Linked DNA regions of Homo sapiens: all the other regions are linked to region 3. The links come from fine-mapping of genetic effects on gene expression. A gene starts in region 3. Each other region holds a variant in brackets. All regions are shown on one strand. Distances are between the middles of the regions. Region 1 overlaps CAND1.11 (a long non-coding RNA gene). Region 2 overlaps AMPD3 (adenosine monophosphate deaminase 3). Region 3 holds the start of AMPD3 (adenosine monophosphate deaminase 3). Region 4 overlaps AMPD3 (adenosine monophosphate deaminase 3). Region 5 overlaps RNF141 (ring finger protein 141). Region 6 overlaps LYVE1 (lymphatic vessel endothelial hyaluronan receptor 1).

Region 1 (5,117 bases), 42 kb before region 3:
TCTAGAACCTTCAGACCTGTAGATGGGCTCTTCTTGGACATTCTGGAGTCCCTGGGGGAAAGGGAAGTCTGAAGCTCAGTTGGCCACCTCTGCATAACAAATACCGAGAGCACTGCAAGTGGAGCTTGGACAAGGTCTGGAAAATCAGCCTTCTTCTGGATGCCTCCAGCCTTTGCTATCATCTGCCTAGGAGGTTGGAAGTTACTCAAGCGGCTCAAGGAAAAGGTATTGTGAGCATGCACCAGGTCATGTGATTGGAAGGGCTATCTGCTCCTGGCCTGAGGCCAGCACCCAAAGCTGTCCACATCTCCCAGGGACAGCAGCATCTTTCTTCTTTACTACATTCTCTCTCCTCTCATCTTGATTGGCTTCCTCTGCCTGTACATGGCTAACTTTGCTACCAGCCAGAGTGGGAGTAACCCACAGCCCCTAAGTCCCCTCCAGAGAGGGCTGTCAACAGGGCTGGCTGCTGAGCTGGGGAAGGTGGGAGGGTCTCACCATCCCATATGTAGATTTCACTTAATTTCCCTGCTTTCAGGACAGTGCTTCACCTTTAACTTCCTCTTTGCCAGGTATCGCTTATCCTTGAGTGTCTCTGGATCAGTTTCTCTGGAGATGAAATTATCTATGGCCTACCAGGATAGTTTCCAGGCAGTGCAGAGTTGGGAGGAGGACTGGGGTAGAAACACTTTCTTATAAAGACTTCTGCCCTATCCACCTGTTTTCAGCCCCATTTTTCACCCTGGCTCCAATGCATGAGGCTTTGTGGGGTCGGTGGTCGGAATTTGCTTGCTTCTTGCTAACATTTCTCTTTGCATTCACTTTGGTTTCAGCTCTCTCTGCTTTGCTAAGCTGGTTATCATCCAGCTTCTTACCTCTTCCAATAATTATTGACTTCTCTTGTCCTCTGTCATGTTCATGCCATTCTCTTTGCTCTTGTGGGCTCACTCTTTTTCTTTTTTAACAAAATTTCATTACTTTTACTTTAGTGGGTGTCAGGATGGAATGGACATACCACATGTGTTTACACCCCCATGTTTCATTAGAAATCCTAGTCACTGTTCAACACATTCTCTCAGCTCCATCAGTCCTTTGAAGCTGTTCTTGTCAAGGACACCACCATTTCCATGTTGCCAAATCTCTTGGTCACTTTGCTGTCTGTCTTCATAATACTCAGTCTCTCAGCAGCATTCCACACACTTGACCACTCTTGAAAAACTTGCTTCTTTTGACCTTCATGATAACACATGCTTCTGATTTGTCTGCTACATCCACTGAGCATGCTTCACCCTCTCTTGCTATATCTTCCTCTTCTGGGAATTCCCATGGACTCTTTCTTTGGTCCTCTTCTTTTCTCTATCTATACACTTTCCCTAGCTGATCTCATCTAGTCCTAGGGCTTTAAATACTTTCTATATACCAATGACTCTCACATATTTATCTGCAGCCTTGATAGCTTCCCTGAATCTCAACTATCTACTTCTCCCAGACATCTCCATTTGGATGCCTAATAGCATCTTAAACTTAACTGGGCAAACCTGAACTCTTGATTTTCACCGCCAAACCAGTTCCTTCTTAGTATTTCCCATCAAAGTCATGCTCATACACTGAGTGGCTGAAGGCCAAAACTCAGGATCATGCTTCACTCTGCTCTTCCTTTCTCCTTTCCCATTTACTATGTCAGCAAGCCCTGTCGGTGCCTCCATGATATATGATTAGTGAGTCTGCTTCTCCATTGCCACTGCTGACTGACTGCTCCTGTCAAGGCCACCATCATGTGTTGCCTGGGCTATTCCAGTTGACTCCTGAGTGGTTTCCTGGCTTCCACTATGGCCCTCCAAGGATCCACCTTCCGCATAGTAGCCAAATGATTCCATTAAACATGTCTATCAGGTTATGCCACTCCTTTGTTTAAAATTTTCCAGTGATTTCCTGTTGCCTTAAAATAAATTTCACACTTCTTACCAAGGCCTCTGCTCCTCTGCAAACTCTTTCTCTTCTTTTTAGAGATGAGGTCTTACTATTGCCCAGGGTGGGGTGCAGCAGCTTCATCATGTTTCACTGCAGCCTCAAACTCCCAGGCCCTGTCTCAGCCTCCCAAGTAACTAAGTCAACAGGCATACCCCACCTCACCTGGCTAATTTTTTTTAAAAAAGAGATTTGGTCTTACTATGTTGCCCAGGCTGGTCTTGAACTCCTGGCCTCCCAAAGTGCTGGGATTATGGGTGTGAGCCACTGTGCCCAGCCTAAACTCCTTTTTTTTTTTTTTTTACACAGGCTTAATCCACTATGGCCTTTCTGGTCATCTCCCATTCCTACCCCAGGACCTTTATACTTGTTCTTCCTTCTGCCCAAGAAGGAAGACTGCAGCCACAATCTTGATGCTTACTGCAGCCACAACTCCTCATCATTCAGGTGCAAGCTCATACATTCTCAGAGAGGCTCTCTTAGTCTATTTTATCTAAAGTAGGAACCCCTTCTCCCAAATCATTTGCTAGAACAGTGGTCCCCCACCTTTTCGGCACCAGGGACTGGTTTCATGGAAGACAATTTTTCCAGGAATGGTTTTGGGATGAAACTGTTCCACCTCAGATCATCAGGGATTAGATTCTCATAAGGAGCGTACAACCTAGATTCTTCCATGTGCAGTTCACAATAGGGTTCGCGCTCCTATGAGTATCTAATGCCACCACTGATCTGACAGGAGGTGGAGCTCTGGTGCTAATGTGAGCGATGAGGAGAGGCTGTAAATACAGAGGAAGCTTCACTTGCTTGCTGGCCCACAGCTCAC[C/T]TCCTGCTGTGCCACCCAGTTCCTAACAGGCCATGGACAGGTACTGGTTCATGGCCCTGGGGACCCGTGCTCTAGAACATCACTTTGTTTTGCTTGTCTTAAAAAATTCATAGTAGGTATCATTATCCAAAATTATTTTATTTGTTTACTTGCATACCAGCTAACTCTCCCCATTAAAAAATGGACTCTATGAGAAAGGGTCCTTGTCTGCATTGCTCATTTTTCATATCTTTATCTACCACAGTGCTTGGAATACAATAGGTGCTCAATACATACATGTACAATAAATGAATGAATGACCAGTTAAGCTAAAGGGACTAGGAGTAGAGACAGTCCCTGGAGAGGGGGATGTGGGTAGAACAGGCATTCCACAGCGTGTCTCTTGAACTTTTGCTTCATTCTAGGCCAGAGTATGACACAAAGTCTCCTAATTTTATAAAGGGTCAGTAAGCACAAATTGAAGGGAAAGGTGAGGGCAGGGGCAGTGGATGTGGGGAGCGTGGGACAGCTCAGGAAAGGTGCAGTACGTGTTGCTCTGCAAAGATTTTGCTCCATTCTTTTGTCCCAAGCCGCACAGCTTTTCCATTGTGACATTCTGTAACTTTCTGGAAATTTTTTTTTTATGGCCCTTGGGTAATTTTCCACGTGGTCAGCCAGCTCCGTCAAGTGCAATGGTGAGGAGTGGGACTCAGAATGGCTGGGAGGCCCCGAGACCATCAGACAGGGAAGATGCATGTCGTTTGCACCCGGCACTGACTTCCAGCTCCCTTTTGCGTAGGAGGCTCCTGGACTGTGACATACAGGATGTTCCTGTGTGGCTCTTTTTAAGGAAGCCTATTTTTCCTCCATGTTAAAACTAAAATCTGTGGTCTAGCTCGGAGCAGATGTTAAGAGCACATTCTCTCTAAGAGTGTGGGCTGGAGTGTGGGCAATGGCTATTTATCACCGTTTCCTTTTCTTTGTGTTTCTCTGTGGTTATTGAAGTTTTTGGTTTGGGGAAAAACAACAAAAACAAAAATAGCAACATATTTATGAACAAAGAAGAGAGCTAAAACTTAACATCTGGAAGAGAGGAAAGAGGGGAGTAAGGTGCCTGAAAATAATTTCCTTTAGGAGTGACTGGAGGCTTCAGGGGGATCACAGCACTCCTGTGGAATTTTTACAGAACTAAGGAAGGCTGGAGTCAGCCAAACTTTTGAAACCTCAGCATCCTAAACCTCAACTCTTGCTGCCCTGAGAAGAGCATGAGCCGGCCAAGCCCTGGTGGCGGCTTCCCCAGGACCTCCCACTTCCTTCCTGATGTGCCTGCAGTCCTGGAGCTGTGATCGCCTCTTCTTTAGCTTCTTAGAAAAGAGGCGGCACAAGAAAAACGCTCAGTCATCTTGCAGAGACTTGGCATCTCTCAGCAACACGTTCTCTCTTTCTCTCTTTTCTTTTTTCCTTTGAGATGGGGTCTCGTTCTGCCGCCAGGCTGGAGTGCAGTGGTGTGATCTCGGCTCACGGCAACCTCTGCCTCCTGGGTTCAAGCGATTCTCCTGCCTCAGCCTCCGGAGTAGCTGGGACTACAGGCGCACACCACCATGCCTAGCTAAGTTTTGTATTTTTGGTAGAGACGGGGTTTCACCATGTTGGCCAGGATGGCCTCGATCTCTTGACCTTGTAATCCACCCGCCTCGGCCTCCCAAAGTGTTGGGATTACAGGCGTGAGCCACCACGCCCGGCCGACACATTCTTATTAACTTGATGGCACAGTTGGCTGGCAGGTTCCCAGGTCATGTTCTCAGTGATTGGAGTTCTTGCTGTTTCTTGGACTCCTTCATGTCTCACCCAGTCCTAAGTCCCTTCCTTGCTTCTTAATTAATTTATGTCCTTGTGTAATATGTGGCACACCCACATAGCCATGAGGCATGTTCAGGCTGTGTTTTTTAATGTTCTGGCTTGTTCTACATTTGCCAAGTGGGCAAGGACAGCAGTTACCTGATTGGCTCCATTTGGGCAGCAGAACCTAAACAGTGACTACCTGTTGGAATCCACCTGGCCTAGGTATCTTTTGTTTGTTTGTTTAAATAACAACAAGCATTTCTTATGGTGTTTTGTTTTCTCCTGAACTCTGTAAAGACAATGGCAACACAGAGGTCAGTCTAGAATGACTATACTGGCACTAGGAGATGAGAACTATACAAGTGGAATTAAGCAAATGTATAGACACAAAATCATCACAAAAAGGGTGAAGTGCTGTTCAGTTATTGATGCCAGTCCCTCTTCTCTAGGGGACTGTGACAGCTGTAGCCAGATGTGTCCAGGAGATTATCTCTGTCCTGATTCT
Region 2 (5,117 bases), 27 kb after region 3:
GCATTTTTTATGCATGTCTGCTTCTTGGAGAGAAATATCACTGAGTTAGTGCCAGGGTTAAGTTTGGCTCCATCTCCCTGGCCCCAACTCACTACTTAACGCCTCAGTTGGCTTCATTAGTCTCTTTTTAACAGTAGCTGTAGAAAATATGGTGAATCTGAGAAAGCAATGCAGCTTATTGCTCTTCCTATAAAATTTCCCCTAGCTTTCAAAAATTTTTTTGGTTATGTGTAATGGAGAACACTTGCAGATGGTACAAAATTTAAAAGATACAAAAATGGTATCAATTATTCAGCCACCCATTCTCCTCCTCAGAGGCAACCACTGGTTTTAGTTTCTTATGTATTCTCACATATATGGTCTATGTACCTACAATTATTTATGCATACATAGTTTATTTACTTATTTTTACAAAAATGGTAGTTTACAATATACATTATACTGCATCTTGCATTTTCCACTTAACAATACATCTTAAAGATAATGCCATATCAATATATAAAGAACTTCTTTGTCCTTTTAAAAAATATGTACATAGTATTCCTTTATGAGGATATATCATAGCTTATTTTAATTAAGTTCCCATGGATGGGAGTTTAGGTTGGGTTGGAAACAATGCAGGCCTTGTCTGGAGATCAGCATCCTGACCATGAGTCTTTGGTGTTCACCCAACCTGAGGCAGGTGGGCAGGGCATTGGAAAGCAAGAGTCGAGGTGGGTCGGCCACCAGCTGAATGGGAGGATGTCAGCCTGTAGCATATAATAGCTTCTTTCTCCCAGTCTCCTGGCTGGCACAGAGTAGTGCATGGAGCACCTGAACTGGGCAACTGGTCCTCAGAAAGCTAAGTGTCTGTGAGAGGCAGGCTGATCTTGCAGATCTCCTTGGCACGCAGTAGGTCTGCTGTCAGCCATGGGGCCTGTGATGCCTGTAAGCTTGGCCGGTGGCCACGGGTCCACAGGGGTCCTGAGCATCCTCTCTGATGTCCTTAGCCATGGCATGAGCCCCTTGTCATGCTGAGTCCATTGGTTCCCCAGAGAAAGAATTTGGCTTCGTTGTTGGCAGGGACATATTTTTGTCTAGGATGTCGGTGTCTGCTCACCTATTCCTGCCGCTCTCAGAAGCCATCCACTGGAAGATGTAAAAGGAATTAACATACCTTATGGGGACATTTGGAGGCAGGAAAGGAGAATCTACCATCGTAACAAAAAGTCTTGCTTTTTGTATTTAGTATTTACTAAATACTACTTCTTAGTAGTATTTAGTAAAAGTATAAAAACATGCATAGGAAAAATATATTCAGACTTCTTCCCTCTGAGGATGGGGTAGGGAGGAGAGTAGAGTTTTAGCTGTATCTGTGATGATTTATTTCTTTAAACCTGTGAGAAATTTGAAAGAATTATGCTAAATATTATTGTCAGCTCTAGAAGGTAGGTTATATTATCTTTGGTGCCTGTCTGTATGTTTAAAATATTACAAAATTAAAAATGATGATTTTATTAAAGCAGAGGAGATCACTTTCAGGCCCCAGCCCTCCCCACTCTGGGCTATGCCAGCATATGGTGCCTCCCTCTGCTGTTCCCCTTACCCTGCATTGTGTCTGTCTGGCCACTTGTCTCCCCAAGCATATTTCTGCGATTCCCATCCTTCCCAAACAGACTAAGATTAATGAGCCTGTTGGAAGGCGGGAATTTATCTCATTCATCTTTGAATATGAGGCTGCTCTGGTAAAGCAGAACATCCTTAGACTTTGGGACTCAATCAGGTTAGAGTCTGAAATTTGACTCTGTAGCTTCCTGGCAAGTGATTTATCCTCTCTGGGCCTCAGTTTTCCCATTTGCAAAATGGGTTGCTGTAAGGAGCAAAATGAAATCTATGGAAAGGTCTGGCACATAACACATGACAATGGGGCTTGTTGCCTGGATGAGTTGGGTGATTAACAGAGTTAATCAGAAGTGTGGGGTTGGCAAAGAAGCAGGCTGAGCATGCAGAATTTGCTTTTGCTTCTTGTTTTGTTTCGCCATCTGAAGGACACATGAATTTTCTCAACTGAAAATGACGGTGCTCATCGCCTTCAGGGATAGGACTCAGGCTTTGTCCCTCCATGGGCCTGGTACAAAAACAGACTTTTGGCTTAATTAGCTGCATGTGAGGCCGGCTTCTGGGTGTGCAGGCTGGAGCACTTGTCTGTCTTCCAACGACCCTAACTCCTCCTGTGTCTCCTGTGTTGGGGGTCTCCAAGACCACTCCAGGTTGGATGATTCACCAGGAGGACTCACAGGACTCAGCATATAGCTGTACTTACAGCTTTGATTTATTACAGTGAAAGGATACAGAGCAAATCAGCAAAGGGAGCGATACATGGAGGATACGAGGTGCAAGCTTCCAAGGTCCTCTCCCAGCAGAGTCATCAGAACATACCAAATACCTCCAGCATCACATTGTGACAGCACATGTGGGAAGTGTTGTTTACCAGGGAAGCTCATTAGAGATTCGGTGCCCAGGGTTTTCACTGGGGCTGGTCACATGTCTGCATAGCACATCTCAAATTCCAGGCTCCAGAAGGAAAGCAGGTGTCCAACATAAACCATATTGTTTGTACAAGTAGTTTAGGTGCAATGAACCACTCTTATTGGTCAAGGAGTGGTGAGAACCCTCCTGAAATCTAGGTTCCCAGATACCAGGCAAGGGCCAATCTTGCAAGCACATCTTTCCAAGGATGGCAGTCTCAGGCCTGCTGCATGAACCCTTTCCTGCCTGCCTCCCTTCTGCAGATCACTTTGGAGGACTATGAGCAGGCAGCCAAGAGTCTGGCCAAGGCCCTAATGATCCGGGAGAAGTATGCGCGGCTCGCCTACCACCGCTTCCCGCGGATCACATCCCAGTACCTGGGTCATCCGCGGGCGGATACTGCACCTCC[G/A]GAAGAGGGCCTTCCAGGTATGGAGCTCTGGCTGGAGGTTGGGTCCCAAGTGTGGGCAGACCGAGAGCTAGTCAGGGCTTTTTTCTGGCTCGGTCTATTTCCCCTGATAGTATTTTAAAATGACAATGTTCTTTCATTGGCTTCTCCCACACTGATGTTTGATGGTTCCCCCAAGGATTGATTCTATGTGTACTGTATGCCTAGCCTGTGCAGAGCTGAACTGTTGAAGTCAAGACAGAGATGTGAAAGACAGTCCTTGTTCTTGGGAGTCCACCAGGGAGACAGGGAGTCTCATGTGGGAATTTTTTTTTTCTTTTTTTTTGAGATGGGTCTTGCTCTGTTGCTCAGGCTGGCATGCAGTGGTGCAATCATGGCTCACTGCAGCCTCAATCTCCTGGGCTCAAGCAATCCTACCACCTCAGCCTCTCAAGTAGCTGGGATCAAAGGCACACACCGCCACACCCAGCTAATTAAAAAAATATATATTATTATGTTTTGTAGAGATGGGGGTCTTACCATGTTGCCCAGGCTGGTCTTAAACTCCTGGGCTCAAGTGATCCTCCTGCCTTGGCCTCCCAAAGTGCTGGGATTATAGATGTGAGTCACTGCGCCTGGCCTCATGTGGCATATTTAAAAGAACACAATCACACAGTAAATGCCAAATTGGTGGTAGGGTGGATCGGGGTGGGAGTAGGAACAGAGGGCATGTTCCCTGGGAAGACATGTAGGCTCTGGTGTCAAACACACCTGCATTTGTATCTGGGCTCTGTCAATTTCTTGGGATTTTGGGAAAGATATTTCTCTAAGCCTCACTTTGTAAAATGTAATCTGTAAATGGAAATGCAAATAATACCTATCTCCCAGGGCTGTCGTGAGGATTAAACAGGAGAATGCATGTGAAGTACTTAGTTCAGTTCTGGCATCTAGTGAGTGTTCAATAAATGGTAGCTACATTTATGCTGCCGAGTTCAGGGAAGGGGAGGTCGGAGAGGGCTAGGTGGTTTCCTCATGAAGCCTTGCCATGAAGAACCTAGGAGCAGTAGAGGCAGTGATGAGGACAGTAGGAAACCCCACTCCTGAAAGTTGGTGGTGGGGGACACATAAGGGCCTGGTGGTCTCCATCAATGCCTGGGACCCTGGCTGCCTCTGGGGGTAGCTGGTGGTGCCAAGTTGCCCCAGTCTCTGGCTTCCTTGAATTTCAAGTCCTGTACTTTGAGCATCTGGGGCCCTAGGTAAATCTCAGCCCTTTGGGCCTATTTCCCTATCTGAGGGAAGTGGGTCCTACCACCCCAGTTTTGGCAAAGACAGACAGAAATGACTGTCAAATGTGTACTTTACATGGACAGAGGACCCCTGGGTTCTGGGCATGAGTATGGGGAAGAGGAGCAACTTCCGAACATGCAGGCTGTAGCTTCACCCGGGCCTTGAACTGCCTGCATCTCACAGACCACTGCATTGCATTAGGGCCTCCTGAGCTGGCCTGTGGCCGTGCCTGATGGGGCATTCCCCTCTCCAGCTCTGCCTGCATCAGCCCCTCTGTGGCTCCTCACATGTGCTCTAGGGATGGTCTGTTCCTTCCAAGCACAGATGGAGGATGCCCAGGCAGGTCACTCTGCCTTGGCAGCTTCCTTTGATGCAGATCTTGAGGTTTGCTCCTGCCTATGCTGGCAGCTGGACAGCTGATCCTGGATGGTGCTGGCTGAGCTGCATGGAGTTGAAGCCTCCAGCTCTACTGATATTTAGCATCAATACACTCCTTGGCCAGGGACAGAGTTTATCAAGAGTCAGGAAAACTAATTATGAGAATAATAAGAATAATATCCTATAATTCATTATTTGTAGTGCATTACTGTTTATGAAGAATTTTCCTATACACACTATTGCAACCCTCACAGCAGCGTGTTAAGGCAGGGGGTGTTATCTTCAGAGGAGATAGGCTCAGAGAGGTAAAGGAGTTTGCTGAAAGTCTCACAGCAGGGAAATTGCATAGAGGAGTTTTCTACCTCCTGTTGGCTAATTCTAACCTTAACCTATAGTGGTTGGGGGCAGATGGCTTTATCATTGGCATTCTCTGCTCTGGGGGAGACAAGTTCCCTATCCTTTGCTCCTTTGGGGAGGGAGTGGCTTCTTTATCTAGCCCCTCACCTGGCCTGGGCTCGGGACAGTTATTCCCACTGGGCAGTCCAGGTGCAATCTGTTT
Region 3 (5,117 bases):
GTTCATTTTCCTAGTTCTTCTCTCTCGTATCTGATATCATAATGATGATGACAATGATGTTGGCAGATAATGCTTATAAAACACATACTCTATGCCAGGTACCAGTCTAAACACTTCACTTATGCTCATTGTCATGGCAACCTATGAGATTGGCTTTTTATTATCCACACTTCATAGGGAATAAAACCGAGCCACAGAAAAGTTATTTAACTTGCCCAAGGTCATACAACTAAGTGGTGGAACAGGATTCAAATGCAGGGAGTCTAGCTGGAGTTTTTTTTGTTGTTGTTTGTTTGTTTGAAATGGAGTCTCACTCTGTCACCCAGGCTGGAGTGCAGTGGCACAATCTCAGCTCACTGCAACCTCCACCTCCCGGGTTCAAGCGATTCTCCTGCCTCAGCTTCCCAAGTAGCTGGGATTACAGGCGCCCGCTACCATGCCAGGCTAATTTTTGTGTTTTTAGTAGAGATGGGGTTTCCCCATGTTGGCCAGGCTGGTCTCAAAACTCCTGACCTCAAGTGGTCTGGCCGCCTCGGCCTCCCAAAGCGCTGGGATTACAGGCGTGAGCCACCACACTCAGCCTGAGTCTACGTTTTTAGCCATACACTCTACTCATTCCTGAGATTGCCATAGGTGGATTGATCTATTATAAATAGCTAGTTCACTTGTTCATTGTTTTATGCATTCATTCATTCAACAAATACTTGCTGAATGTCGACCATATTTCAGGTATGGGGATACAACTGTGAATGAGACAGGCGAGATTTGTCATGGAGCTGGTATTTAGCAAGTGAATCCCCTTTGTCCAACTCCTTGTGTGAGTCACACACACCTCACAAATGAGAAGAAAAATGAACCCCTCTATGCAAGCTCATGCCTGGCTTTTGGGGAGGAGAGTGATATCTTTCTTTTTCTTTTTCTTTTTTTTTTTCTTGAGATAAAGTCTTGCTCTGTCGCCAGGCTGGAGTGCAGTGCAGTGGTGCAATGTCAGCTCACTGCAACTTCTGCCTCCTGGGTTCAAGTGATTCCCCTGCCTCAGCCTCTCAAGTAGGTGGGACTACAGGTGCGCACCACCATGCCCAGCTAATTTTTTGTGTTTTAGTAGAGATGGGGTTTCACCACGTTGGCTAGGATGGTCTCAATCTCCTGACCTTGTGATCCACCTGCCTCGGGCTCCCAAAGTGCTGGGATTACAGGCATGAGCCACCATGCCCGGCCGATATCTTTCTTGATGAGACATAATTTGATTCCGTCCTCTCCTGTCTTTTAGAGTTTGTAAGGGGTGCTTAAGTGATAAAAGGGGATGCAGTCTAGTCTCGGGCAGGAGAAGCGGGCCCTGTATCTGGTTATCATAAATTGTCTTGATGTTTGTTCGAAAGGGAAATAAGGCTTTGAGCTTGGGATCAGTGCTCTTCAGTCCACAGAGACATCTTGGCTGCAAGAAGCAGCAACAAGTTAGGCTCAAGGTGGAATTGTGAGGTCCTGAGAAGAGCTTGCTCTTCTGGGACAGAACTGTATTTTTCTTCTAAACTGCCCATGTTCTGGGGAGTCTTCCCGCCTTTTGGCTTCAGCAGGACCCTTGGTCATTGTTACAACCTGTGTCATCTTAGTGGAGCTGCTGCTGGTTTCTGTCTGAACCCGATGCAATGGGTCTCATACCTGTAAACTGGGCTCCAGGAAGGCAGCTTTCTCTAAGTTGGAAAATGAAGACTCAAGGTGGAGGGTGTTTCCCAAAGCCGATACCACAAGATATTAATAGGTGTTTTTTTCCTATGACAGCAGTTCTAGGATGGTCAAATAAGTGCGTCGGGTTAAACAAAGTTAAGCAGCTTTCTTTACTGCAGGACTTCTCAGGTGTTGAATTTGCTAGTAGAAACTGTGCATGAATACCCATAAGGGACTACAGGATGCAGTGTTTTCCAAGCCTTCTGACCTTTCATGTTCTGCAGACTGCACTTTGAAAAATGCTTGTTTAGACTAAGGCTAGCTGGGATCCGGTTAAAGGTGCAGAATAAAATTCCCTGAACGTGTCGGACTTAAATCCTTGGGCTGGAATCCTCCCACTGCAGTCCCCACTCTACCTCCCCTTTCCCCAAAACACTAGCAGAAAAAGTCATCTGCCCCTCCTCCTTCTGGCAGAATAGTACTAAGGGCTTGGATTTTTTTCTCATACTGTAAGTTCATTTAATTGTTTAATGAATAAATATTACCCTCCCTCTAGGTTGCTTGTAGCCTGCTGGTTGCACTGTTTATGAAACAGCTGTGAGGACAGGTGGGCCGTAATCTCTGGGTAGCTAAAGCCCAGCAGCAGCCCGAGGATCATGTGTCAACCCTGTAATACTGCTCTGTGCACACAGGAATTATGATGTGAGCTCAGTAAGACACAACCTCACGATTGGACATGCGGAGGTGACTCAGGCCCAAGTCAGGGTTACAGCTAGCCTCCCGGTAAACAACTGACCCATCCTTCCTGAGCTCTTCTCCCCAGGATTTCAACAGCACCACAGAAATAGCCATTTTGCTCATGGTTATTTCCCAGGACCACAGGATTTGCCTAAGTCACTGGGAGGCTATGTGTCTGTTCTGAGCCTTCCCACTCTCCTAAAGGGCAGATGAAGATCAGAGCTTTGCACCCTGTGATGCCATTTTAATCAACCCTGCTTGGTTTTAGAGGATTGCTCCTGTGGGTCACTTGAGGCAGGCTCCACCTTCCCCAGGAGGAGTGGCAGAGTCCAGCCAGCGCTCGGAGCTGGAGGCCCACGTGGGAGCAGTGAGCGGCTGTAAGCAGGGGAGGGTTTGGGGTGGGCTCCGGTGGGTCAGTTGGGGTGTACTCCTTTTCTGTGTGTGTGGATGGGGGTGGGGGTTCTGGTAAAGCTTATCAGGCTTCGCAGTCACCTGTGATGTGGGCTTCCTTCTGGGAAGAAAGGAAGGAGTGGGATGGGGCTGTCAGCTTTTCATCCTAGCCTGCCCCTGTCCTCTGTCCGCCTCTGTGCTGAGGCAGTTCCTGCTCCCTGAGTCTCTGTCCTTTCCTGGGAAAGGTGGAAGCAGTTCATGGTCTTTCCCTTTCAGAGGAGGAGGGGATGGAGGGGATTGTATTAGCAACTGGGATTGAAGCTCCCCCTGGCAGTTATGGGGTGCCCTTGGGAGGGCTGCTTTAGGGGGGCTTTCTGAGAAGAGGCAGGTCGGGCTGTACCTGAGACCAATCCCCTTGATAAAATGCAGCCAGGCCTGAAGCACGTTCAGAACGGAAGCAGCAAAGGTGATGATATCGCTCGTTGCTACTCAGCTTTCAGGAGGAGGCTGGGCGTTAGAGGGAGGCTGTGGCTTATCTCCTGCAGCTGGGCAGGACGGCTGAGTTTACTGTTGTAAAGAGGAAGCCGCCGCTTTAGTTTCCTCTTGTGAGGGCTGTGAAGAGGGCCAGGACACTGCATTCAGGATACCACAGCCATTTTGTTTTGGATAACTGGGATTACCTGGGGACTTCAGGGCTCTTGGAAATTTTCCACTCATATTTCATATTCACGAGAGAATTTCCAGCCCAGGCTTTTCCTGCTCTGGCTCACTGCTGCTCACAGATATGCAAAACAGAGACCTCCTACTCCAGCCGGCAGACAGGACCCAGCCAGCTGCACGCACGCACTGACTCAGCTGAGCCTCCTGGGTGGCAGGCAGCACCTCACCCGGGTGCATCACTTGAGTGGCATCTTCAGGACCAGTCATGGAGCCAGGCTCAGGTCTGTGTCGGGGCTTCTGCAAGGGGAGTCTGGCAAGAGTAGGAACCAGCTTCCTTCGTATAACGAGGGGATTTCAGTGGCACTGGGCTTCCTTTCTGGAGGGACTGTGGCACCATGAAAAGTTACTGTTTGTTGAAACTGGCAGTGTTTTAGAACTTTCTAACTTTGGGACACTTCTTCAAGTTCATCAGAGCGTGTTGCATGTAACAGTGAGATAAGCTGTATCATTGGCTGACTGATGCTGGTGAATTCACAGCTAAGCCTCCCAAGCCTGCTGGCTTCAGCTGACAAAGGGTTGGAAGCCAGGCGTGAACATGCAGCTGGAGCTGAAGCTCTGCTTGGCATCTGCAGAGTGAGCTTTCCTTGTCAGGCCTGGCCTGGCAGGTGTCTGGAGGGTCTGAGAGGAGAGACACTCTGGAGGGACGGGTTGGCAGGTGGGAGCTGTCTGCCAAGGACATCCAGAAGGCAGCAGATGTGGGGGCAGCTGCTAAGGCCTGCAGCACCCCAAGTGGGTTACTTGGTCCATACTAAGATATGGAATTAATTATTTTGTTGTGGTTGCTGTTGTTTCTTGCTTTTTTTTTTTTTTTTTTGAGAGAAGGTCTTGCTCTGTCACCCAGGCTGGAGTACGGTGGTGCCATCATGGCTCACTGCAGCCTGCACCTCCAGGACTCGAGCAATTCTCCCAACTCAGCCTTCCAAATAGCTGAGACCACAGGTGCATGCCACCACACCTGGCTGTTTTTTTTTCTATTTTTTGTAGAGATGAGGTTCTGACATATTGCACCAGGCTGATCTCGAACTCCTGGCCTCAAGCGATCCTCTTCAGCCTCCCAAATTGCTTGGATTATAGGCATGAGCCACTGCACCCGGTCTTGGAATGAATTATCTACCAACTATTTAAGACACTGGTAGTAGTTCTGCGGAAGATTTTTATGGGTTCTGTAAAACAAAAAGGGTTCTGTATGTTAATGTTACTCTATGATCCTTGATTTTAATGAGCCTTATGAATGTGAGTTGAGGGGCTGTGGAATGCAACATCTCCCAATAACTGACCACAGGACCTGTTTTACCAGCAACAGGTATCAATTTCTTATGGCATCCAGTTTGGGAAAGGTTGATTTAAGCTAAAGAGAAAGGAAGATATGTTATAGAAAGCTGTGTCCTGAAAAGTATTTTTAGTTGATTAGAGCAAGCTAAAAATGCTTTGTGCGCTGGTATGATGGCTCACACCTATAATCCTAGACCCTGGGAGGCCAAGGCAGGCGGATCACTTGAGACCAGGAGTTCAAGACCAGCCTGGCCAACATGGTGAAACCCCATCTCTACTAAAAATACAAAAATTAGCCAGGCATAGTGGTGTGTGCCTGTGGTCCCAGCTAC
Region 4 (5,117 bases), 47 kb after region 3:
CTTTTCATCCCTGGGAGGAATATGGCCTCAGGCAGGCCAAGGGGTCCCCAGCTGAGGTGTGAACCTGAGGGGCCCAGACCCACAGGCCTCTGGCAGCTATGAGCTCTGGGAGGCTGAACCGAGGCTGAGTCCTGGTCCTGCCTTGGCCTGGTGCTCAGGACCTCTCCTGCCCAGGTGACGGGGTTTGACAGCGTGGATGATGAGTCCAAGCACAGCGACCACATGTTTTCCGACAAGAGCCCAAACCCGGACGTCTGGACCAGTGAGCAGAACCCACCCTACAGCTACTACCTGTACTACATGTATGCCAACATCATGGTGCTCAACAACCTCCGCAGGTGCGTGAGGCCTGCCCTCGCACATGCTTGGGTTCATGTGTTAGTACATGCACGCATGCACACACATGCACACACACATGCATGTGATCCTTGTGTCCGTGTGCACCTGAACCAACATGCATGTCCATGTGCCCACACACCTCAAAACACACAGCACTTTCCAGCCTGCTATATGAGGCATGTCTCCACATGATCACACACATGCAAACATGCCCACCATAACACACATGCCAGTACAGACATATGTCATGTACAGTATGCAATGCAGCCACAGTCCACACGTGTCCACACATTTATATGTACACACACCAGGGCACACTCCACGTGTACCTGTACATCCCTGAGATAATGGAAGCATAGGACATGCTATCACACATGCACGGTCACTTACTGCCACACCAACAATGTCCACACGTGCATATTTTCGTTCAGCAAATCACTGCATCTGGCATGCGATAGGCATTGCCCTGGGCACTGGACAAATAACGGGGAACAAAACAGACTAAATCCATGCATGCCCTTACAGGCAGAGGCTCCTACCAATACGCACACAGACGAGGCACACGTGGCCAGGAGTTAGCTGCCCAGGGCAGCAGGACACTGAGCCATTCCCTTCCCTACAAGTCTTGCATCCCACTTTCCCCTGCTGGGCCCTGGGGTCTCTCTAGCTCAGCCTAAACTGGTGCTAGTTGGTGGGTGTGGAGGTTTCGAATGGGGTCCTGATTGAAAGAAATGGCCTGGCAGGGTGGAGGCAGTCCTGGGCTGAGCTTTTGGAGATGGGGGCTCTGGTTCTGGCTTTGCTACTGACCTGTTCAGTGGCATGGAACATAGACTTCACTCTCCGGGCCTTGGTTTGCCCATTTCCATAACACAGAGGTCAGACTCTGTGGTTTCTCATGGCCTTCCCTGCTCTGGAGTTCTACGAATGCGGGACACAAGGCCAGGAGAGGAATTCAGGAGAGTGGCTGGAGGGCACAGCAGGGTCTCTTTCTACTGCGAGGCCCACTCTCTGCCCGTAGAGGTGATGCTTCTTGGTTCTAAGGGGCCCCAGGGCCTGGACCTCTGCATTTTAGGAGGGGTAGTTTCCAGGGTGCACTGGGTCAGCACAGCTGACCATGGGTGGTCATTCCCCCCGGAGCTGGCCCTGAGCTGTGGCTGCAGGCCCCAGGCAGAGCCAACTGGGGGGGGCCTTCCTGATTCGGAAACCCCTTCTCTTACAGGGAGCGCGGCCTGAGCACGTTCCTGTTCCGGCCGCACTGTGGGGAAGCCGGCTCCATCACCCACCTGGTGTCTGCCTTCCTCACTGCTGACAACATTTCCCACGGGCTGCTCCTCAAGAAGGTAACCAGGTCACTCTCGGGAGCCCGTCCTGAGTGACTGCCCTGCCCTGGGCTCCTGGGAGGCTCAACCAGTGAGGCCAGAAGGCTGGGCCCTCTTCTGGGCTGGGATGTCTGTCCTTATCTTGGTTTTATTTTTAATTATGAAAGTAATATAATCAAACTCATCACAATTTTGATTTTCCAAAAACTGGAGAAATGGAAAAAAGCCAGCCCTTATGCTATTACATTAATAGAAATAGCCATTATTAGCTTTTTAGTATATCTAATTTCCATCTTTTATCCACAGCATATTTTTAATGTGTTTATTATCATAATGAACACAGAATTTGGTTCCTGCCTCGTCCCTTACTGTTGTATGACAAGCATTTTTTGATGCTGCAAC[G/A]TAATATCTATGCTCCTTTTTCCAAAGGCTGTTGTTGGATGAAGGGTCTGCCACTTTGTCTGTAATTGACTCAACCAGTCCACACTAGTTGGGCACAGAGTCCATCCACCTTTTCACTGGTGTACCCTTGAGCTCTGTGCATACAGTCTTCTCCGTATTTTGGATCACTTTCCATTGGCACGATGTTTGATCAAAATGCTCCCTTTCCCTGATCCCGGTGAGGTGTAACCATGGGTCACATTTTTGGGTGGGGTGGGTGCTACAGTAGAAAACCACTCTATCCTGGGCAGGTCCACCCCTCCCATCCCTTCAGGGATCATCTCCCAGGAGCTGGAGTGTTTATAGTCTCAACCTGGCTGTTTGCAGTCAAAGCAATAAAACAGCTAGAGGGGGGCATCTTCTAGACTGGGTCCGTGCCTAGGAGAAAGGAGCTGAAGGTGTAGGCTGGAGTGGGCTGCCCTTCCTGCCCTGAGCCTTGCCTCCAGTTTGGAGCAAGAATGAGCACTTCCAACAGTGGGTAGAGGCACCAGGGAGGGCTGGCATGCAATGTAGGAATGAGATGAACAGTGGGGAAGGGGAGAGTGGGTCTGAGTGTCCTGGCTTCGAGGAACTCGGGTTGAGGACTTGGGCAGACATGGTTCAGACCCCTGGTTTCCACTGGTGAATGCTTCTTCCCTTCCTTTCTCCCTTCCCTTTTCCCTTCTCCCCTCTCTGGCACTTGTCACATGAGTTCGGTGGTTCTTTTGCAGAGTCCGGTATTGCAGTATCTCTACTACCTTGCTCAGATCCCCATTGCCATGTCTCCTCTTAGCAACAACAGTTTGTTCCTCGAATATTCCAAGAACCCTCTGAGGGAATTCCTACACAAGGGACTGCATGTTTCTCTTTCCACCGATGACCCCATGCAGTTCCACTACACGAAGGTAAGGACTTTGGGGTGAGGACAGTAGTGCTTCAGTAGGCACCAGTCCTAGCCTGTCCTCCCATTTCAGGAACCTGAGCCCATGGCTTAGTTCTGCTTTTGGGGTGGGGTTGGTGGCCCAGTGAAGGCAGGAAGGAAGCCACTGTTGGGGGAAAATTGTGCCATCCAGGAGCCCTTTCTTTGGGGTTCTTGAACCCTCAAAGGCACAATTTAGTATCTTTGCCTTCCTCTATTTTCTCTTTCTTTGACATTTATGAGCTCTGTGACCTTGGTAAAGTTATTAGATTTCTGGATCAAGTTCTTCTTCATCTGTAAAATGGAGATAAAATTTTCTCTGTCCCTACCCTGTAAGGATTCATGAAGATAATGAATCAAAGGTTCTAACATAGTGTCTGCATATATTCAAAATGGTTGCTACTTTTTAAATCAATGCTATTATAATTTCTACACTTTGGGTCTCTGGGAAAATAAAAGAGGAAGCTAACAGTGGTGTCATGCATGGGGACTAGCCGCAAGTATACCCAGCATGTTTTGATGGTGTCGACAAGACCAGCCATTGCTTAACAAAAACAGAAGCACCAGAGTCTTTTAGGACAGAGGTTCTCCAACCTCTTGGTCTCTGGACCCCTTTATACTCTTAAGAATTGAAGCTTTCAAAGACCTGTTGTTTATGTGGGTTATATCTACTGATATTTACCATGTTAGAAATGAATAAGAAATTTTAAAATATTTATTATCTCATTTAAAAACCACATCAATAAACCAATGAAATGTTACATAATAATGATTTTTTTTCTGAAAAGTAACAGTTTCCCCTGCCTTTGTTTTGCATTTTTAAGCCTCTTTAATGTCTTAATGGAAGTCAGCAGGACTCTTCTAGCCACTTCTGCATTCAATTTGTTTTTAATCAAAATATGTAAAAATAGAAATCTTGCCTCATGAAAATACATAATTGGAAAAGACAAGACCTTTCAAAAGGTCTTAGGACCCTCAGGGGTCCTTGACCTGTACTTCGAGAACTATTGCTCTAGGCTACAGCGGCAGTGGGGTGGGGAAGAGGTCACAGACGGCTTGTGATGAATAGACACTTCACATCCCAGAAGGGAAGCAAAACCACAGCTCAAACCCAGATCATTCTGGGATTACACCATTTTACCACTTATCCTATGATCACTTCTCATTTTTTTTTTGATGTTCCATCTCTGCTTTTAGTACTTTACTCATCTATCTATCTATCTATCTATCTATCTATCTATTTATCTATCTATCATCTATCTATCTATTGCAAACTTAAGAAAATAGTGTGTTAAAAAGAAAAGCTAGAGGGCAAGTGCTAAATGTGGCATGACTAGAGGGCTTGTCACAGGAGAGCAGAGACTGCCATCCCTGATGACTGGCACAGGGTTTCAACATGAGGTCTCAGTGCTGGTCAATGAATAAATGTAGAGGCGTGATTTTAGATCTCTCTTTGATAACCCATGATTTTACAGAAGAAAAGATCTTAGGCTTTGAAGGTGTGATGTTTGATGATCCAGGTGCCATTTAGTGAGGAAAAGTTAAACCCGCAGTGTCTGATGTTGTTAGCTTTGGACATGTGTGAACGATTGACATGGATATCCCCCCTTCTAATCCACATGCTTTGGGGGAGGATCTAGGAAGCACTTATGGAAGAATATGCCATTGCAGCTCAAGTGTGGAAGCTGAGCACCTGCGACCTGTGTGAGATCGCCAGGAACAGCGTGCTGCAGAGCGGCCTCTCGCATCAGGTATGGAGTGTGACGGTGCTGCCTGTGTCCCTCCTGGGAAGGCTGCCTGCTGTGTGCCAGGAGCCTTCCAGGCACTGGGGATCTGTGATGAACATAGCAGGCAGGGCCTCTGAGACACTCAGGCACAGGGAGAGAAGACGCGGCAGCCTCCTGTGTTTTCATGGCTGCTTCCTCACCCTTCTCAGACCTCTACGCCTCCTTGGAGAGGCCTTCCCTGATCGCCCATTCTAAAATAGCCACACACTTGCTATTATTCTCTATCCCCTTAATCAGTTTTTCTCCATACCATTTATTCCTGCTGATGTTTAGTTATGTGTTTTTCTGTCTTTCCCTCTAGCATGTAAGCTCTGTGAGGGCAGAGGTTTGTTC
Region 5 (5,117 bases), 69 kb after region 3:
TTCCATAAACTGTAAGCTCTTTGAATATAGGGTGTTTGTCTTAGATTCTCAATAAATGCTTCTTGAAGTGATTTTAATTTCTTTTAACCTTTGTGCTTTTTTGTAATTTTTAAGGTTTTCTTCATCAGACATGTATTACTTTTGTAATAATATAAAAACTGACTGTTCCAAAGTACAGCCACTAGACTATAAACTTCTTAAGGATAGGAGCTATCACTAATATGTTTTCCATTCCCTGTTGTGCTTATAGCACTGTATGTAAGATATTTAGATAGTACTTAAAATTTTGATTTGAATGTAAAAATAAATGTCAAATGTATATTAAATATAGTAAGTGCTAAGTAAAGAAGGAAGAGATGAATATATCTCAAACTTGTTGAAATGATGAGATAGAAAAACAATAGGATTTTAATAGAAGACATTCTAGGTGCATAAACAAAGTTGTAGAGGTAAAAAGCAAAATCATGTGTGTTTATGTCTGTGTATATGTAACCAGGAAGCTGGCATGATACTTGGGTATGGAAAACTGAGGAAAAAGATTGATTAGATAAAGTGGAGATAATCTCATCCTTAAATGTCAAAATATTAAGTTTGAACGTGTCCTGACAAGCAAACTACAATCAGTGTATAATCAAGGGGAAGTGAACTCCAACTGATATGGTACTTCAGGAAGATAAATTGGGAGTGCAGTATGAGGGACAGTCTAGAAAGAGGAAAACTGGTTAGGATCTTATTTCAGCAATTCATCTGAGAGATAATTAGGTCTAAGAAGCATTATAAAAGACAAATCTTTTATGTGGTAATAGATTAAGTGTTATACGTTAGTAACAGGGAAAAGAGGGAAGTCACTGAATTGGAATGGGAAAACTGAATAAAAACCTAGATGGATATGGGTCTAATGTATCTGAGTTTCTCAGTAGCAGAGAATATAACTGAATCTGTACAGAGTGAAAGAATATTCTGAAGGCTGGACTTTAAAAGTGAGAAGCAGAGGACTACAAAGAAGAGCATTGTGGAGAGAGATAAAAGAATGGGAGATACAGAAATAGCCAGTGGAACCAGTACAAAGTTCTCTTAACTTTTTGCTACCTTCTTAGCAGCACAGTGACCAGAAGGAAGGAGAGTCTTGTGCTGTTTGTTCCTGTTAGATCACCTGTAGATTGGAATATTTGGTTCTATGCCTCATACTCTGAAAGGCACACATACTGACAGAGAAAAGACCATCTGGGAAAGCCTCCAGTATGTAGACGAGACCCACATAAACAAAGGCCAAAGGAACTGGGGGTGTTTATCCTTGAGAACAGAAGGTTCAGTGAGAATTTGATGACTGTTTTCAAATATTTGAAAGGCTGGAAAAGAGAACAGATTTGTTTGGAGGAATTCCAGAGGGCACAGCCATTGAAAACAATAAATAGAATATAGTAACAATAATAATGACAGTTAACTCTTATAGACAAATTATTATGTGTCAAGCACTGTTCTGAGCATCTTATGTCTTTTAATTCTCTCAAAAATCCTATAAAGCATATACTACAGTTATCAACCTCTGTTAGAAGATGAGGAAACTGAGGAAACAGTTTGATTTGTCAAAAAAATCACACAGGAGTGGAGCCAGGATTTGAACACAGGCAACTTGCTGCTAGAGTCTGTGCCGTGCTGCCTCAAGAAAGATTTTGGCTACTCTGAGGAAAATGAAGCAATAGGAAAAACTTCATAGTGATTAGAGCCATCTGAGTATGAAAAGGCTTGCTTTTTTCAGGCAGTGAGTCTCACATAACTGCAGGTGTTACTTGTACTTGCAAGTCGGACTTGGCAAAATGTGGGTAAGCAGAGTCTTGCTATTCAAAGTGTTATCTGAGGATCAGCAGCATTGGCCCCACCTGGGAGCTTGACAGACTCTCAGGCTCCTCCTCAAAACCACTGAGTAATAAATTTTCAGAAGCTCTGTGTGCAAGATCTTTATGCACCATAAAGTAATAGGTTAGAGCACAGCTGTACTGCCAGACAGGCCTGAATGTGAGTCTTGGCTAGAACAATTTCTAATCATGACACTTACTTAGCTAAATCTCAGATTCTTTGGCTGAAATGGGCCGATAATTGTACTCCCATATGGGGTTGTGAGAATTTAATGAGTTTATACATGTACAACACTCATCACAATTCTATACCCTGTAAGTAATCAATAAATGTAAAACATCAATGGAATTATGCATCAGATGTAAAGTTCAACTACATAAATATCCCTTAAGACCTCCTTCAATTTAGAAAGTCTCTTTCTGTGAACTAGTGTATAAGGGTATTATTATAAACTGAAAAAACACACAAAAACAAGAAGCACCCCTAACAAGCTAATCAGGAACTGAATTTCCAGTTTTGAGGGCACATGAAAAGGGATAACACCTTTACCTTCTTCATTAAGAAGACTGTAACAAGAAAAAAACAATACTTTCTTTTCATGTGCTACCATACAGCTTAAATACATTGGCAAACACCATCCTCAGCTTTTAAAACAATTAAACAAAACAACAACCACTATTCTGGAGAGAAGAAAAGCAGAAAAATCAGATCCATCTTTGAAAGATTACAGAATACAGGAAAGACAAGCCTAAACACTGCCTACCATGTTCTAAAAGTCACTTGGCCTATCAGTAACACTTGTATAGACCAAACCTAGAAAACCAAGTAATTCTATTAAAGATAATTGGGAAATAATAAATGGAAAATACAGTTTAACTGTAACATAGTGCTTGAAAACCAGTTGGTTAAGAATGAACCAGAAAATGCAACTGTAAATAGAGCAGTAAAAAAAAAGAAACCACTGGCCGGGCATGGTGGCTCATGCCTGTAATCCCAGCACTCTGGGAGGCCGAGGAGGGCAGGATCATGAGGTTGGGAAATGGAGAC[C/G]GTCCTGGCTAACACGGTGAAACCCCGTCTCTACTAAAAATACAAAAAATTAGCCGGGCGTGGTGGCGGGCGCCTGTAGTCCCAGCTACTTGGGAGGCTGAGGCAGGAGAATGGCGTGAACCCGGGAGGCAGAGCTTGCAGTGAGCCGAGATCGCGCCTGGGCGACAGAGCAAGACTCCGCCTCAATTAAAAAAAAAAAAATCACTGTTAAGTACATTCTTAACTTTAAGGTAAAGGACACGGTGAATATAGATTTCTGCTATCTACCCAGTATGACAGTAAGACAGGATGTCAACATGTTTGGACCCATGTAAATCTTTTTCCAATGAGATATTTACAAATTTAAATTATGATCATGATTGTCAAATGTCAAGAAGTGGGAACTTTCATGTGCCAAAAGCATAACAGAGAAGGAAAAGAAAGTTTAGATAGAACAATAATGTATTAGGCCTGGGTAAACAAACATCATCAGAGAAAACTCTGGCTGACTTCATTTCCTTCTGGTAACTAAGTATATGCATTCGGTTCCTTCCTGAATGGACTGCCAAGTCCTGAAGCCAATATATAAAATTTTAATGCTTCAATTAGACATTTTTTAAAAAAAGTGGGATGATTTTGCCAAATTCTTTGACCTAATTCCCTAAAAAGCTTTGACTGTCTAAGAACCTAAATACCTATTATAAGGAAGGTGTTAACTATCTCCTTTGTCAATAAATGCATGCATATAGAGCGGATTCCTGGAGACCAGTGTGACAGAAACATTAATATTAAAGTGGCCCTGCCAAGCCACTTTAATTTAGCACTGTAACAACATCCGAAGCACAGAATAACCCCAAAACTGATCTCAGATACAATACCAACTGAGAAAAAAAAAAGATTTAAGATGCTACAATGAGCAACAGCAAAAATATTAATAGATTTCAGTTGTTTTCATATTAGAAAATAAGTGAAATACAATACTTATGCATTATATACCTTCCCATCCAAAGACTAGCCTGACAAGATGTTACAGAGGATGAGTTTTCATCAGGTTCTTCAGAGGTGGAGCTCTGTGCCAATACTCCTGCTGCTTGACTTGTGATATCTTTATAAAGTTGAATAAACTGGTATAAATTCATGATCCGTGATGCCTCCACAATGCCACTGCTTTTGTTAATCTAAAAATACAAAGAACATGAAAAAGAAAAGTTGATCATTTCTCTGACCAATTTTTCCCAAAAAGGGGGAACAAATATTTAGTCAAACATCCTAGGAAATAGGAGTTTTCAGGATTTGCAAATTACATAAGAAAGCAAGAGTCTGAATAAATGAGTAATACCATGTCCCCTACACTTGTGGGGTTCAAACTTCTTATACAAATTTACCTCATTTAACACACAAAATCACCCTGTAAGATTAATTAGGCATTATGCTGTTGATGGGTAAGGTGACTTTCTCAGAGTTAAGAAATAAATTTTAGAGATCAGTATTAACAATTCTTTCACTTTAATTTCTTAAAGAATTTCTTAACCACAGGATTCATTTGACTCCAACAACCGCATGAGATTCTACAACTCAAACAAGTACTTTCTTAAATATCTTTAAGTTCTATTTTGTACCAAAACTTCTAAACTAAAGCAAGAAAATTACTTTAAAATAAATCCTAACAAAAGGTGGTTGGACTTTTCCCAGAAGGCCATTTTGAGCTTTATCAAAAAACTCGTTTAATATGAGGTGAAACCAGTGGCCCAAAGGTTGTACCTTTACAGGTTGTACCTCTCCCCCATCCAGTTTACAATCTAATGTAGAAGATACTTGGGGCAAGCAGAGGAGATTGCTTTCACAAGCTTTGGGGAGCCATGGAGTGAGGCATAATGAAATGACCGAGGCCAGTAAGGTGAAGGTATAATGTTCTTGGATGAAGAACTTGAAATCAGAGAAAGATTAGAGACATGAAAGACTTCCTTTCAGCACAAGACATAGGATGGAAGACTGGGGAAGAAGTAAGCCATGAAATCTATTAAGTGCATATCAGAGTAAGAACAAGCAAAATCAGAAAATATTTAGAAAGAAATGAAGAATATAGGGAGAGAGACAAAGACACAGGGCCATAAAATTGTGACTTTAGGTTCTGGAATGTATTGATGGAACTAGGGGTATCAGAAAATGAGGTAGATTACATATTTTAAAATATTATTATACATTTGAATATTGTAAATGAAAATAATAGTTGT
Region 6 (5,117 bases), 100 kb after region 3:
TTTAACAGGAGAAGGTGGTAGCATTCTAATATGTAGTAGATGCCCACAAGATGGGAGATGTGGTGTGGGAGATCTGTTTTTTTTTTTTCAGCTAACACACAGAGGGAAGATCACTACTTAGGCGCTTTCCCTCTTTTCTTCTTTACTCCCTGAGAAATGGATGAAGCTGATAAAGCTTAAGGACTGACAAACCAGTTTCAAACTCATAGACCTACTGGGGCAGGCAGGTGATATATATGAGGGACGTGGGCTGGGTGTGAAGAAAAGGCCACAGTGTTACAAAGTTCATAGGAAAGGGCACCTTTACTTTGGCATGAGTGTGCAACAGAGAGTCATGAGGACTGTGGTGAAACAAAAAGAGCAGACCCCATTGAAAGGGGACAGCTGCTACTCAGTATCAGATAATGATTGCTATGAGGGAACATGGGTTCTTTACTTCCAGATCTTTCCATTTTTAGAGGGAACCCAGAAATGTAACCATGTGAAATCTCTTGATTTTTAATGCCTGGAAATGAAATCAAATTTTAAGATTATACTCCGTGGGCCAACCGGAAAAGATTATGCCAGCAGGTTGTGGCATCTGGGCCGAAGGAACCACGGAGCTGTGGGGTCACTGGTGAGGGGAAGAAGACAATTAGCAGTCTAAGCGGGAGGGAAAGAGAAAACTAGAGAAGCAGGGCGGTCAAAAGTGAGACGAATGAGCCATCCTGGATCTCTGGCTCCCTGGTGAATTCTGAAATGGATGGAAATGGAGGGCCAGCATCTCTAGTAAAGGACTGTTTAATGTGTATGTACTTGGCCAACTCAAAATAAAATGTTTGGAGCATGAATAGCCCCATATGATATATGCTGTTTGGTTGACATATGCTTGTATTTTAACAACCAACATTGTCCCTTTTATTTTTGCAAACAATATGATATGATCTGGTCCTCACTTTAATTTTACATGAAAGGTATAATGCATCTACGTAAATAAGAAAGCAAAGAAGTTTTCTAAATGCTTTAATTTTTTGTCACAAATATTTCTGCATCTCTCAGTCCCTTCTTGTTGGAAAAAGGAGGGCTAGTGATACATTTGTTAATGGCACTTTTAAAATGTGCTTTGGTATATAGAGGTAACAATGTACTTCTTAGGTATGTTAATAATAAATTAAGGTTATAATGGTTGCCATATTAGAGAAAATGAATAAGATTAGTCTCAGCAAAAATAAAAATTAGTTTGGAAGTAGATAAGCTAGAAATATCAAAACTGAAAAAAATAGCTTCCCAGATAGCGTTCTACTATGTGCAATTTTTTGAGGAATAATATTCAATTACAGAGTGTAATACCTTGCACAGCACTTGACATATAGTAGCTATTCAGCAAATGTTTGTTGAATTTTATTACTTTTTAAACAAATTACTGAGTAATCTTCCTTAGTAATCATTTCTGTAACTCAGATAAAAATAGAAATTTATAAGAGTTTTTATTTTTGTTACTTGTAAAAGTATATTTCCTAGAGAAAATATCAGCAGTGGTAGAGACCAGAAAAAGTAAGTGTGTGTGTTCTAAACAGTGATTCCAACTCAATGTGTTCAGAGAAAACACTTTGACCCTGTCTGTGTTTACAGTCCCTGCTGACAGTGTACTGTCGTATCCTCAGCCTTGTTCTATTTCTTTATTTTAGCTTTACAGAGATTAGGTCTCAAGTTATGAGAATCTCCATGGCTTTCAGGGGCTAAACTTTTCTGCCATTCTTTTGCTCTTACCGGGCTCAGAAGGACATGTCAGGTGGGATACGTGTTTCTCTTTCAGAGCTGAAGAAAGGGTCTGAGCTGCGGAATCAGTAGAGAAAGCCTTGGTCTCAGTGACTCCTTGGCTTTCAACCCACCTAGCCTCAGACAGCCAGGAGGCCTTTTTACCACTGGATACTGATGAGATGTTTTAGGTCCTTGCACTTTGCAAAACTCCTTTCTCCCAGTGGGATATTATTAGGACATAGCCAGGCTAGAAAGGCCGTGGGAAGCTTTGGAGGTAGGAGGATAGGATCCAGACAGGGTTACAATAAGGAGAAGGGCATTCTCTTTGGTGCACTCCATAGTCCAATGGCAGTCCTGAGCTGATTCCAGTTAGGAACCAAGGGTGGACTTTCTTCTTTGGTTCTTTGGCCCTTTTGATTTCCCCAGCTGGGGCAGGGTAAGGAGCATGAAAGAAACCAGCCTCAGGTGTGTCTCCTCATTTCTGTCTCATCTAAACTTCAGCTTCCAGGCATCGCACGGTAGTTTTGCTTGGACTCTTGGACTCTTCTGGGTTTTTATCAGTTTTCTTTGATTCCTCATTAGGGTTGCTATCATTGGCCTTCTCCTCCTTTACTACTTTGGTTTCGATCATTTCCTTCTGCTGATTCTTGTTTGTAAAAGGGAAGGCCTTCACATACCTTTAGGCAGAAACATGAAATTAAAGTGAGAGACTCTCACACATAACGATAGATAACACTTTTTGGCCATGGTACATATTGGCACAGTACACTGGATACCTTTATTTCAGAGTGATGCCAGCACATGCATGCTCTAATACATTAAGACATCACCACCTTAATGGATTCATTTAAATTGGACAATATGTTTGCAGGCCAGACTTTAGGCTGACCACATAACTCTTCCAACAAAAACAAAGAACCAAAAATCAAATAAAGCATATAAATTTTCCCCAGATGTCAATTTTTTTTAATTTCTTGATTTTCAAAGGACAGTCATTGACTGATGGCTGGACGACATGCATGT[C/G]CTGAAATAGAAAAGATTGGGCTGAAGGGAAAGAGATGAGATGAGGGAGAAATTTATATCAGAGGACTGCTATCTCCATTTTGATCAGCAAAATGCCAACAGTGACCCTGAAAAAGCACAGGATAGAAACATGACAAAGATTACAAGACTAGCAGTGCACCAACAACCCTACCTTTTGACATAGCAAAATCCAAGACCAGCTGCAGCACCAAAGAAGAGGAGAGCAAGCACTAGCAGAGCCGTGGGGACACCTGCAAGGAACAGAGACAAGGCCTGTTGGTCCTTCACTTAAACATTGTGTGTAATGCTCATTGCATGATCCAGGTGATTGAGACAGTAGACAGTACAGGAGAAAAACCTTCTCTGTAGCCCTTTATGATATTGGGCCCACACCAGCTTCTTTGCTTCATGCTTGTAGAATCATTGGCCTTGCTTCTCACACTCTCAATTCTATCAGTTGCAATATGACAGAGTTCATTTCTCCTCCATGGCCTTGAGACCTACTCTAGTCAACAAGCCTGCCTGAGAAAGAGATGACTAGAATAAAGTCATAGGCCTTTAGGGTATATATTTTAAAAAGAACTTATGCATAGGAACAGATAGTGATTTATTTTTAAAAGTCTTGAGTTTTCAACAGTGAAATTCTTTTATACTTACACTTTTTAGCTTAATCACTAAGGTTCTTTACAGCTCTCAGATTCTATGACTTCATGAAAGTTGAGTTTGTGTTAAGCTTTTATTAGTATTTGACAGGTCCTGAGCGCCTCATCTAAAGACAGGCAGGATTCTATGAATTATCTGTTATACATGAACATACATACACACGTAACATAGACACAGAAACCATTTACCTCCAAACCCAGCAGCTTCATTCTTGAATGCTGCTTTATTTTCAACAAATGGTTCAGTTTCTGTAGACATGGTGCTAGTTTCCATAAAAACTTCTGTGACACAAATCAATTTTTTTCTCCGTGGAATAGAAGTGGAAGCTGGAGCAGGAGGAGTAGTAGTAGGGGCAGGTATTGTAGAGTAAGGGGATGCCACCGAGTAGGTACTGTCACTGACAATAAATTCTGTTGTTTGTGTTGCAGTTTGAGTGTTGAATATGGGATCTTTGGTGGTGATAATTTCTGGAATGCACGAGTTAGTCCAAGTATCTGTTGGGATAGGGAAACATGGAATAAAAGTATTGCAACAGCCTCCTAACTGTTCTTCTTGCCTCTAGTCTTACTACCTCCAAACCCCTTATACCGCAGCTGGAATGGTCTTTAAAAAGCAAATCTAACCATATCACTTTCTTCCTTAGAAGCCTTCAGTGGCTATCTTTGTTGTATGGCCTACAAGGCCTTCTGTGATTTGGCCCCTGCTAACATGCCAGCCTCATCTGCTCTTTTTCTCTCATTGCCCCTGCCATACTGAAATTACTTGAAATTCCTTGATACACTTTATCTTACATCCAAGCCTTGCACCACGATGCTTTATTCACCTTTATGACTCTTTGCCTCTCTTTATTTAGCTTACTCTGACTCATCCCTCAGGTCTCAGATTGACCCTGTCTTTCTCAGGCAGACTTGTTGACTTGATTGGCATATGTTCTTGTACTTCCTTGTCACAGTTCTCATTACACTGTTCCCCACTGGACTGCAAGCTCTCTGGCAGCAGAAACCCCGTCTGTCTTGGTCAGCATGGTATGAGCACTGTGTGTGGTACATAGCACATGCTCAATAACTATTTGATGAATAGGGAAGGAAGGAAAAGGGAAAGGAAGGAAAGTATAGATTGGAAGACCAAATATACACATGTGGTGTCACTTCAGGACAAAGATATGCTAAGACCTGATATTTCTGGGCTCATTAAAAAAAGAAGTGAACAAAAAGGGACCAGGAGAGGGATAAGGGTTTGCTTTCCAATCTGTTGCATGTGCTAGAGAGGAAACACTTGTTAAAGCATCTTAATCTGAGTTGACCATGGCAGTAAGTGTTTAAATAGGTATCTCATTGAACAATATTACTAAACCCTTGTTTACACAGGAGGAAACTGAAGTTTAGAGAAATTGAATAACTCGCCCAAAGTCACAGAGCTAGTAAATGGCAGAGCCATGCAATATATTATAATATAAATTTGCATCTATTTTAAGTCCCTAATTATTTGTGGCAGTGGGTAGCATCAGCTGGGGTTGGGGGGTGGGCTAGCAGAGGGATAGCATTAGAAGAAATACCTAACGTAGGTGACGGGTTGATGGGTGCAGCAAACCACCATGGCACATGTATACCTATGTAACAAACCTGCACATTTTGCACGTGTATCCCAGAACTTAAAGTATAATAAAAATAAAATAATAAAATAAAATTATC

The links. PIP is the estimated chance that this variant, and not a neighbour inherited with it, causes the effect.
Region 1: its variant is the best candidate, but not a certain one, in a credible set for the expression of AMPD3 in whole blood (TOPMed, PIP 0.54).
Region 2: its variant is the best candidate, but not a certain one, in a credible set for the expression of AMPD3 in whole blood (TOPMed, PIP 0.71).
Region 4: its variant is the best candidate, but not a certain one, in a credible set for the expression of AMPD3 in whole blood (INTERVAL, PIP 0.76).
Region 5: its variant is the best candidate, but not a certain one, in a credible set for the expression of AMPD3 in lung (TOPMed, PIP 0.81).
Region 6: its variant is the best candidate, but not a certain one, in a credible set for the expression of AMPD3 in whole blood (Lepik 2017, PIP 0.58).

Annotation. Positions count from the first base shown.
Region 1 is chr11:10,410,752-10,415,868 of GRCh38, forward strand. It overlaps CAND1.11 (a long non-coding RNA gene), which reads left to right. Exons shown (of 4, transcript NR_103765.1): 3 at 6-225. Among named protein-coding and RNA genes, the nearest start is that of AMPD3, 42 kb to the right of the region's middle. The variant C/T (reference allele first, on the strand shown) is at 2,792.
Region 2 is chr11:10,479,292-10,484,408 of GRCh38, forward strand. It overlaps AMPD3 (adenosine monophosphate deaminase 3), which reads left to right. Exons shown (of 15, transcript NM_001025389.2): 4 at 2,772-2,934. Among named protein-coding and RNA genes, the nearest start is that of MIR4485, 26 kb to the right of the region's middle. The variant G/A (reference allele first, on the strand shown) is at 2,918.
Region 3 is chr11:10,452,669-10,457,785 of GRCh38, forward strand. AMPD3 (adenosine monophosphate deaminase 3) reads left to right here and starts at 2,596. Exons shown (of 15, transcript NM_001025389.2): 1 at 2,596-2,780. RefSeq lists an enhancer at 3,471-3,520.
Region 4 is chr11:10,499,912-10,505,028 of GRCh38, forward strand. It overlaps AMPD3 (adenosine monophosphate deaminase 3), which reads left to right. Exons shown (of 15, transcript NM_001025389.2): 11 at 175-338; 12 at 1,559-1,679; 13 at 2,810-2,983; 14 at 4,638-4,748. Among named protein-coding and RNA genes, the nearest start is that of MIR4485, 5.9 kb to the right of the region's middle. RefSeq lists an enhancer at 158-751. The variant G/A (reference allele first, on the strand shown) is at 2,061.
Region 5 is chr11:10,521,313-10,526,429 of GRCh38, forward strand. RNF141 (ring finger protein 141) reads right to left here. Exons shown (of 6, transcript NM_016422.4): 4 at 3,880-4,061. Among named protein-coding and RNA genes, the nearest start is that of MIR4485, 16 kb to the left of the region's middle. The variant C/G (reference allele first, on the strand shown) is at 2,905.
Region 6 is chr11:10,556,881-10,561,997 of GRCh38, forward strand. It overlaps LYVE1 (lymphatic vessel endothelial hyaluronan receptor 1), which reads right to left. Exons shown (of 6, transcript NM_006691.4): 4 at 3,615-3,920; 5 at 2,936-3,014; 6 at 86-2,417. The coding sequence ends at 2,231. The region is part of intron 1 of IRAG1-AS1 (IRAG1 antisense RNA 1); the gene reads left to right. Among named protein-coding and RNA genes, the nearest start is that of LYVE1, 9.2 kb to the right of the region's middle. The variant C/G (reference allele first, on the strand shown) is at 2,764.